3 linked regions of the Homo sapiens genome follow. The protein of the gene in region 1 purifies or fractionates together with the protein of each later gene. This does not show direct contact. Each region holds a gene or a part of one and is shown in the gene's direction. Other genes may lie near its edges. The genes, in order: DMC1, POTEF and COP1.

Evidence for each region.
Region 2: the proteins of DMC1 (region 1) and POTEF purify together in Homo sapiens (affinity purification with mass spectrometry; 3 studies listed by BioGRID and IntAct, with this or other methods). This does not show direct contact.
Region 3: the proteins of DMC1 (region 1) and COP1 purify together in Homo sapiens (affinity purification with mass spectrometry; 2 studies listed by BioGRID and IntAct, with this or other methods). This does not show direct contact.

The regions. Positions count from the first base shown.
Region 1 is NC_000022.11:38,535,586-38,539,241, reverse strand, and holds part of DMC1 (meiotic recombination protein DMC1/LIM15 homolog), read left to right. Parts: intron 1-629; coding exon 630-703; intron 704-832; coding exon 833-947; intron 948-1,589; coding exon 1,590-1,650; intron 1,651-3,656. UniProt on the Homo sapiens protein: Participates in meiotic recombination, specifically in homologous strand assimilation, which is required for the resolution of meiotic double-strand breaks.
Region 2 is NC_000002.12:130,087,701-130,091,356, reverse strand, and holds part of POTEF (POTE ankyrin domain family member F), read left to right. Parts: intron 1-3,219; coding exon 3,220-3,290; intron 3,291-3,656.
Region 3 is NC_000001.11:176,046,696-176,050,351, reverse strand, and holds part of COP1 (E3 ubiquitin-protein ligase COP1), read left to right. Parts: intron 1-3,656. UniProt on the Homo sapiens protein: E3 ubiquitin-protein ligase that mediates ubiquitination and subsequent proteasomal degradation of target proteins.

The DNA.
Region 1 (3,656 bases):
TTGATACTTTTTTTCTATTTTATTTTTCTCTAAATTAATTTACTCAGTCTATAAATTTTATCATCTGGTAAGTCCTTAGATAATAAAGTGCCCTCAAATTATTTATTATTCTTTGTCTTTGAAATTAAGAGTAACATTCTTTTTGGATAATGTAGCATTTGGTATACATGCTAAGGCAGAATATGCAATAATTTTTTTTTTTTTTTGAGATGGAGTCTCGCTCTGTCACTCAGGCTGGAGTGCAGTGGTATGATCTCGGCTCACTGCAACCTCCAACTCCTGGCTTCAAGTGATTCTCCTACCTCAGCCTCCCAAGTCGCTGGGATTACAGGCACACGCCACCACACCCAGCTAATTTTTGTATTTTTTAGTAGAGTCAGGGTTTCACCATGTTGGCAAGGCTGGTCTTGAACTCCTGACCCCAAGTGATCCACCTGCCTCGGCCTCCCAAAGTGTTGGGATTATAGGCATGAGCCACCATGCCCTGCTGCAATAATATTTAATAAAGTCATCAATAATTAAGAAAATCCTTCAAGGAATTTATTTTGCCTGGCTCCCAAGAATATGAATGATCTTAGCCTCTGCTTCTTTCAACTTTTATAACATTTTCTCACTGCATTTCCCATCAGGTGAACATCAGATGGAGCTACTTGATTATGTAGCAGCAAAGTTCCATGAAGAAGCTGGCATCTTCAAGCTATTGGTACAAGCTTTTAAATATTGCTTTCACAGAGCTATTTAGCATAATATTTTTCTTCTATTGATCTCTATTCAAATAACGTCTTCCTTCAATTTCCAAATGCATGTTTATTTTTACATTAATCCTGTGTAGATTATCGATTCAATAATGGCACTTTTTCGAGTGGATTTCAGTGGCCGTGGGGAGTTGGCCGAACGGCAGCAAAAATTGGCCCAGATGTTGTCACGACTCCAAAAAATCTCAGAAGGTATATCTTTAAAATAAAATGGCATCTGTGACTATGTTTGTCAAGTATACTTTGCAGAGAAGCTTGGAATATAATGTCAGGAGGCAGCGATTTTTTTTTAAATAAAATTACCTTTATGAGAATACAACTCTTTGTTTTTTTTTTGTTTTTTGAGATGGTATCTCGCTCTGTTGCCCAGGCTGGAGTGCAGTGGTGCGATCTCGGCTCACTGCAACCTCCGCCTCCCAGGTTCAAGCAATTCTTCCTCCTTAGCCTCCTGAGTAGCTGGAATTACAGGCACCTGCCATCACACCAGGCCAATTTTTTGTATATTTAGTAGAGACGGGGTTTCACCATGTTGGCCAGGCTGGTCTCGAGCTCCTGACCTCGTGATCTGTCCGCCTCAGCCTCCCAAAGTGCTGGGATTACAGGCATGAGCCGCTGAGCCCGGCTTTACAACTCTTTTTAAACCAAAAATATTTATTCTAACCTTAATAATAATAATAACAAATAATTTCTGTTGTCAATGAAAAATAGGAATATGATGTTATTTATAAAATAAATTCATGATGCAATATGTCTAAACTCTGAAATCTAAACAATGAACTTTTAAATATCTATATTGCCTTTCTCATAGTTTTAAAATTTTATCTCTTGATGCAGAATATAACGTGGCTGTTTTTGTGACCAATCAAATGACTGCCGATCCAGGAGCAACTATGACGTAAGCCCCAATATTCTACTTTTTATTTCACAGAGGTTAATATAAAGAGGGTTAGAGCGTAGAATAGAAAATAATTTCAAGGCCGGGCACGGTGGCTCACGCCTGTAATTCCAGCACTTTAGCAGGCTGAGGCAGGCGGATCACGAGGTCAGGAGATGGAGACCAGCCTGACTAACATAGTGAAACCCCGTCTCTACTAAAAATACAGAGATTAGCCGGGTGTGGTGGCGCACACCTGTAATCTCAGCTACTCCGGAGGCTGAGGCAGAAGAATCACTTGAACCTGGGAGGTGGAGGTTGTAGTAAGCCGAGATCGCGCCATTGTACTCCTGTCTGGGAAACAGAGCAAGATTCTATCTCAAAAAGAAAAAAGAAAAAAGAAAAGAATTTAAAAATCATTAGTCTTTATGTGGGCACAAATATATCACAAATCACTTTATTACTGGGCGCAGTGGCTCATGCCTGTAATCCCAACACTTTGGGAGGCCTAGATGGTTGGATCACCTGAGGTCAGGAGTTCAAGACCAGCCTGGCCAACATGATGAAGCCTCGTCTCTACTAAAAATACAAAAAATTAGCTGGGCGTGGTGGCGTGCACCTGTAATCCCAGCTATTCGGGAGGCTGAGGTGGGAGAATCACTTGAACCTGGGAGGCGGAGGTTGCAGTGAGCCAAGATCATGCCATTGCACTCCAGCTTGTGCAACAAGAGCAAAACTGCATCTCAAAAAAAAAATCACTTTATTGCACAGTGTATATGACTTCATAATTGTAAATATCACTTGGTAACCAGAATCTATTTTTCTCTAGTTCTTTATAGAATAAAGCAATACTTTAACCATTTTCAGCAGTACTTTGGGCTTCTCTTTGGTCTAGGGCTAAAGGGGTATGGGAGGACAATAAGAAATAGATCCTAGGGAAATAAAAACTTATATTGCAGCTTATCAGTATAATAAACACCATTCATAAAAACAAAAAAGTCATCTTTCTACAGGATATACATGAGATATATTTATCAGAGGCACTATGGGAGAAGTCTCCTGTTTGAAGAAAAAGAATTTCAGTTCACACTAGGCATATTCAGAATTTGTTGAAGTGTTTGTGCACATAACTATTGATGACTCTGAAAGACGGCAGTGAATAGAAACACACAGAGAGCTAAAGTAGGATAATAAAAATAGATAAATCAAACAAAGGTTTGTTGCCACCGTAACAAATTTTGAGCATTATGTGTCTGAATAAGCAATCAAAATAATCCTAAATACACACCACTGCACTCCAGCCTGGGAGACAGAGCAAGACTGTCTCAAACAAAGCAAAACAAATCTAAATTCATGATAATGCTTTTTTAAAGTGTGTGTGTGTTTTTTTTTTTTAAGAGACAAGGTTTCACTCTGTCACCCAAGCTGCAATGCAGTGGCACCATCTCTGCTCACTGCAACCTCTGCCTCTCAGGCTCAGGTGATGCTCCAGCCTCAGCCTCCCGAGCAGCTGGGAGGCACACATCGCCACGCCTGGCTAATTTTTTTATTTTTAGAAGAGACAGGGTTTTGCCATGTTGGCCAGGCTGGTCTCGAACTCCTGGCCTCAAGCGATCCTCCCACCTCAGCATCCCAAAGTGCTAGGATTACATGTGTGAGCCCCCTTGCCTAGCCAAAAAGCTTTTAAAAAAATCTTTTAAAGGCTGGGTGCAGTGGGCAGTGGCTCACTGTAATCTCAGCACTTTGGGAGGCCGAGGTGGGAGGATCACCTGAGGTCAGGAGTTCAAGACCAGCCTGGACAACATGGCAAAACCCTGTCTTTACTAAAAATAAAAAAACTAGCCAGGCATGGTGGTGTGCACCTGTAGTCCTAGCTTCTTGGGAGGCTAAGACAGGAGGATCACTTGAACCTGGGAGGCAGAGGTTGAAGTGAGCCAAGATCGTGCCACTGCACTCCAGCCTGGGTGACAGAACAAGACTCCGTCTCAAAAACAAAAAAAAAAAAGATTTTTTTAAAGGTTTTTATT
Region 2 (3,656 bases), on another chromosome or scaffold:
GCTTAGAATAAACATTTCTTTCTGAGGCTGAGGAGGGGGATTGGGATATTAAATATCCCAATAGACTTATGTTTTTTCTGCCAGAAAGAATGAGGAATGGCTATTGATAGGGAGCCAACAATGTGTGCTGGAGGGGGCTCATTGGAGAAATTTGAGCAGGGGAGCCACAAGATTAAATTTGAGTATTAAGGCATTCTGGTTATGGTGTAAAATGGGTTAGCAAGCTTTTTCTTTAAAGGACCAGGTGGGAAATATTTTGGACTATGTGGTCTCTGTCATATCTACTTAACCGTGCTGTTGTCTGCTGTTGTAGTGTGAAAGCCACCATGATTATATGTAAGCAAACAGGCATGACTGAGCTCCTATAAAACTTTATTTACAAAACCATAATGCAGATTGGATTTGGCCTGTGGCCTATAGTTTCCTGGGATTGATGGGAGATAATCATGCAAAGAAACCAGGAGACAAAGGAAGCTTTTGCAGTAGTCAGCTATAGTTTCCATGTCACACATCCTTGGAGTAGCATCAATGTATTACAAGGTTTTCACCCGTCCATGGTAAAATAAATAACGTTAGAAATCTCAGTTACTCATTTTACTATGTTGGCCTTCGTTATGCCTTTTTCACTTGTTTTGCTTAATTTTTTTTCCTGTAAGAAATAACATTAATAGTTGGCAGTTTTCTTTTAAATAGAAGTCATTTTGTAAATGTTTGTGTTCCCAGTGGCAGTGGGAATATAAAACAGAGGCAGAAGAGAGGTATAGTCAATATGATTTAGTGATAATTGAATGAGAAAGGCTTGGGGGACAGAGAGAAATCTCAGATGATGTACAGGTTTCCAGATTGCACACTAGTATTTAACCTGGACATGAGGAAGGAGTAGGAAATTTTCTGGTGAATACAGGAGAGCAAAGAGCAGCAGGTCAGCAGGAATGACTAATGTTTTTCGATGCATGTTTAATGGAATATTCGTGTAGGGTATTTTGAGTAGGTAATTGGATAATCAGCATTTATAACTCGCATCCTACTAGTTTGACTCTAAGTAATAAGACTTGTCAAAGATCCAAGAATCTGAAAGTCAGTAATAAATGTCCATGTGCATCATCGTCCGTGACAGAAAGTCAGCATCCACAGAACACAGAATTGGGACAGATGAACTTAATAGATAAAGATGAATATCGGAGTTGTTCCTCTTAGGGAATGATACTCTCCATGACCTGTGTGAGTCACAGCTGCCAGAAAAGAAAGAGCAAGGAGCGTATGAAGGCAGCACAGCAAATTCGGTCCTAGAGTGCCCTGCTTGGCTTCATGTCATAGTTCTGACTTCTAAATAATCATTTTCTGCAAAATGTGCTTTTTGTTTTTCCCTCTTGCCGCCTGCAGCCAATCAGAATCTTTTTAGCAGGACATAATGAAAAGAAGTAAGAGAAAGAGTGTTTTTTTGTAATGGGATAGTATTTAACGTAAACTTGAGAGTGAGTACCAGGATTATACTTAGAATTTATGGACTGGATGGGAAGACTGGATAGAAATCTAAAGATTGCTGACTCAAACACAATGTGGTTTCTTTGATTTATTTTCACAGCTCTGAATTCACGACTGTTAATTGTATTCATATGCATTATAACTTTACAAAGCATCTTCCGAAACCAAATATTTACTGATTTATTATAATTTGTATGACTTTATTATAGAACTGACTTTCCAAGTGTTCATGAGAATTGTTTAGAATTTGCTACATTGTATCATCTCAGCTGTGTCCACATGAGCTATCTGTCACCTTGTCTTAATGAATAATTGTTCACTAGGAATATTGGTTTTGGCATTGAAATGATCTATATCTAAATGCAGATAGGACCCGGGACCACTTTTGAACATTAATGTTCAAGCATCTTAAAATTACACATAATGCTTTCATAATCTGACTTCTGCCCCACTCTCCATCTTTAGCCCTTTTCCCTGTGTGCCCTGTCTCTGGCATTACTGAACTGCTGGCAGTGCCCTACTCACTCATCCTTCTATTGTAGGCAAATACTTTCACTCTTTCAGGAGTCGCTCCCGCTCTTGCTGCTGCGTGGCATGCCGTCACCCTTTCCTGCCCTCTACACCTTTTAATCTGGCTAGTCTCAATATTTAAGTCTCTGCTTGGGCATGTGTTCTAGAAAAGCCATCTCTGACATGCTTTATTTTAATTCTTTTTAAACCCTAATGCCTAGCATGTATTTAGCAGGACTCAATAAAATATTTCTGAGTAAAACAAAGACTGTTTTTACAAAGATGATGTGCAAGACTCTCCCCTGCAGTCTTGGAGCAGAGGGGACAGACGTGGAGGAATAATGTACAGTTTAGGTGGTCAAGATGCAGTAGAAAAATCAGTAAAGTACTAAGGCAGCCTCAAGGAAGGAGGTACCTGTTTATTTGGGGAAAGACATGCAGAATCAAGGAAGACTTCATATAGCATTGTTTCAAAAGATGAAAATAAGGCCAGGTGTGGTGGCTCACACCTGTAATCCCAGCACTTTCAGAGGGAATCACGAGGTCAGGAGATCGAGACCATCCTGTCCAATGGTGAAACCCCATCTCTACTAAAAATACAAAAATCAGCTGGGTGTGGTGGTGCTTGCCTGTAATCACAGTTACTCAGGAGACTGAAGCAGGAGAATCACTTGAACCAGGGTCGCGGAGGTTGCAGTGAGCTGATCACACCACTGCATTCCAGCCTGGTGACAGAGGAAGACTCTAGCTCATAAAAAAAAAAAAAGAAAAAAGAAAAAAAGAAAATAAATTTGTCAGAATAGTGGAGAGAAACATTTTAGATATTAGGAAGATGTTGTACACTAATAAAGGTGTCAGCAGTGATTTTGGAAATCATTTATAAGGTACTATTAGGAAGTGGAGAACAGTACACTGTGTCACCTTATATGTTTCTACTGTATTTTAAAGCTGTGTTTCTGGTGGTTTTGTTCATGGATGTTGGGTGGATGAATTTGTGAGGGAATTTTTGACATGTTTGTTTGTCTTCAATCTGGTGACATCTGCTATCTCCCCAAGTGGGTTTTTGAAGTTTTTGAGAATTATTTCTTAAATGACAATTTCACAAAAGATGAAACACTCAATTTATGAAATAAAATGAAATGTCTCAAATCTGTTTTTAAAAGGCAATAGTTTTTAACTGTTTTAAGTGGTTGATTTTAACTGAATGTATGGATTTTTCAACAGAACAAGACTTAAAGCTGACATCAGAGGAAGAGTCACAAAGGCTTAAAGGCAGTGAAAATGGCCAGCCAGAGGCATGGAAACTTTTAAATTTAAACTTTTGTTTAATGTTGTGTTTTTTTTGCCTTAATAATATTAGATAGTCCAAATGAAATTACCTTTCAGACTAGGCTTTGAGAATCAGTAGATTGTTTTTTTAAGAATCTTTTGGCCAGGCAAGGTGGCTCACGCCTGTAATCCCAGCACTTTGAGAGGCTGAGGCAGGTGGATCACGAGGTCTGGAGATCGAGACCATCCTGGCTAACATGGTGAAACCCCGTCTCTAGTAAAAATACAAAAACTTAGCTGGGCGTGGTGGTGGGTGCCTGTAGTCCCAGCTACTCGGGAGGCTGAGGCAGGAGAATGGCATGAACCCAGGAGAGGGAGCTTGCAGTGAGCCG
Region 3 (3,656 bases), on another chromosome or scaffold:
TTCATTGCTTTGTGCCGCATTGTACTGGCAGTATGCATTAATCAGCTGTCCTGTGCAGTTTCTTGCCTTGCTGCTTAATCACTTGACTAATGACATTTTTGACAAAGAATACAGCTAGTTTCCTACAGCTGAATTACGTATTTCAGCTGTTGATATAAATCACTCTTTTAACAGTTGAAATGTTTCAAAATGTGAAAGAAAAATGCAATTTATGTCCCCAGAAACACGATTTTTCAAAAGTATACTTGTATGTTGAAATTAAAAACAAATTCTGTGAAATTGAATTTGTCATGCAGTAAATTTTTATAAATCTCTTGTTTTAATTATTACTGCTGACAGTGGATGGCAGAAATGAACGTTGTATAGCAGTAGTAAGACTTAAAGTTTGTTTTTGAATTTAATTGCATAAGCAACATTTCAGTTAATTAGTTTACCTTTTATTTAGTCTCAGCCTAACTAGTCACTGTTTAACTTTTGAAGTACTTTTGCTTGGGTTATCAGATTTCATAATAAAAGTAGTTGAAATATCATACTGTTAATATAAGAGGTCATCTGTTTTGTATTAGTTCTAGAAAGCTTTCTGCACCTGAAAATTACAGTGTTCATTTCAGTTAGTTCATGATCTGTTTTTAGAATCTCATTATGTTCATGTTTGAGAATATATATGATTAAATATGTCAGAGATAGGGAGCAAATGTTTCAGTATCTAGAAGTCCTTAAATCCTGAGTCTTAGTGATGTGGAAGTTCTTCCACTAAAAAAGGTGGTTTGAGGGGGGGGACCTGTTTGTCTTTCTTTCCCTTTTAATCAAAATTTTCTAGAAATAATATTATTCTTTATACTTTTTGATTAATATTTCTATTAAAATCTATTTTTACAGTATAAAAGGATCTTGTTACCCCCAAAATATTTTTAAAAACATACTCTACAGGTTCTTGATACCTTAATATATTAAAAACAAAACATAACCAAAATGTAAGAAAATAATAGCAATGAAATCAAAACAAAAAGTTAACTTTTTAATATGAGAGTTAAGAGTTAGCTAATGTCACTAAATAATAACATGTAGAAAAAAGAGAGAGAGCTGTCTTGAATAACAGGATACCAGCAGAAGAAATAATAGACATATTTAGGTCATCATCTTAATTCTTTTTTTTTTTTTTTTTTTTTTTTTGAGACGGAGTCTCGCTCTGTTGCCCAGGCCGGACTGCGGACTGCAATGGCGCAATCTCGGCTCACTGCAAGCTCCGCTTCCTGGGTTCACGCCATTCTCCTGCCTCAGCCTCCCGAGTAGCTGGGACTACAGGCGCCCGCCACCGCGCCTGGCTAATTTTTTGTATTTTCAGTAGAGACGGGGTTTCACCTTGTTAGCCAGGATGGTCTCGATCTCCTGACCTCATGATCCACCCGCCTCGGCCTCCCAAAGTGCTGGGATTACAGGCGTGAGCCACCGCGCCCGGCCCTTAATTCTTTTGACAGCATTTTTACTTATGTGTCAGTTTTCTCCCTGTAATGTATTTAAGCTATTATTTTGATAGGTTAGTGTTTAAACGTATTATATATGTTAAAACTAATAGTTTAGTAATGGCATACTTTTACTGGCACAACATTGGAATGGTGTTGATTAGCTATGTATATGAGTAGGCGGAGAAAAAGTATTTAGTGATAACTAGTTCACTTGAAGTCTCAGCTATACCAAAACCTCCTAAATTAAAAACAGGATTTCAGTTCTGATAATAACTCTGTCCTTTACCAGATAAAGTAGTATTTCTCCTTCAGTGACATGAGACTATGGGTATAAATTGAGTTGGGATAGATGAATAGTTGTCATCATTATAGTTATGGTGCATTAAAATCCACATGGCAGCAAGTAGTAGCTGAGGCAGCAGTTCAATTGAGGTTGTACAAATAAATCTACTGCATTGCTATAGTATCATACTTTACTGGAGGGAACATTTGCTGAATTGTGCCCTAGTCAGTGACACTTAACTGAATAAATTTTTTTTTTAAATTGGCTGGGCACCATGTCTGACGCCTGAAATCTGTAATCCCAGCACTTTGGGAGGCTGAGGTGGGAGGATTGCTTGAGCCCTGGAGTTCAAGACCAGCCCAGGCGACATAGTGAGACCCCATCTCTGTAAAAAAAAAAAAAAAAAAGAATTTTAATTCTTTAAAAAATTATATAAAATTAAGGAAGCATTTAAAGCTGTAAAGAAAAGTGGGCGTATCAATGTGTGTCTTTAAGGGAAATAGTCCTTGTTGTTGTTGTAGTTGTTTTTTAAGACAGGGTCTTGCTGTGTCACCCAGGCTGGAGTGCAGTGGCACAGTCATGGCTTACTGCAGCTTCAAATTCCTGGGTTCAAGCAGTCCTCCCACCTCAGCCTCCCAAGTCTCTGGAGACAAGAACCCATCACTATGCCTCACTAATTGTTTCATTTTTTTGTAGCGATCGGGTCTCACTATGTTGCCAGGCTGGTCTCAAACTCCTGGACTCAAGGGATCCTCCCACCTCGGTCTCTCAGAGTGCTGGGATTGCAGGCATGAGCCACCGAACCCAGCCTGAAATATTCTTAATGTGTCTTTTTCTTACTTACCATCATCAGTTCAGCAAGCTTCTTAATAAATCATTAATCATTAACTGTTCTGTGAATGGATATTAAGAAAATGGATGTTTGTATTTTTGTATGTAGGTGTTTGTATTTTGTGCATTAAATGAATGCTTAATAGATACAGAGCACTAGCTAGGCATTTTGAGAGAAGAAACACACATACATAGATATTGAAGATACATTCATACACATAGATTTTAAACCTTTAAACCTTTAGCCTTTACACTTTGAGTTTTACATTAAGAGCTTTGATCTGTAATAAAGCATAGTAATTATTAGCACCAGCTCTGAAACCAGACTACCTTGTGTTTGAATCCCACCTCAGCCACTTACAGATTGACTAACTTTGGGCAATTTACCTCACCTCTAATCTTCATTTTCTCATCTGTAAAATGTAGATAATAATAATACATATATCACAGGTTGTTATGAGGACTAAATGAGGTAATACATGCAAAATGTTTTAGTAAGTGAATGATTAATGAATATTAGGTATTATTGTGTAATTAATTGTAGATCAGTGAGAATTCTTATCGCTAAACCTCTAGAAAAGATGCTTAAATCATATTGAGGAATAATGTATGTGATGATTCATTTCAACTTTTACTACCTTTGGGCTAATTAGATTTCCAGCTGGTTATGTAACAACTGTGTTTAGGCTGCAAGTTCTGTAAAAGCGAGTATGATCTTGTACTTGCTTTCAAATAGCTTGTTTTGGAGCTTATATAAAAATGATCAGCAAGAGAGGAGTGAATAACGCTGAAGGAAAGGAGATTATTTATTTATTTATTTATTTAACCTCTTTTGTGATATGAGGAATGTGTATTGGGGTTTTATAATTCAGAGAGATATTTGGGGAGGGGGATTAGGTATGGATTTGGGGAAAAGTAATGATAATTCAGTGGTTCTGTTATATGTATTCCATCCCCTTGTCATCACCCAATTGCTTCAGTAATTCAAATTATATACTAATTTATTTATTAAAAATAAAATTTAATATTGTGAAATTCTACTACCTCCACAAAATGGCAGGGAAATAAGTAGAATG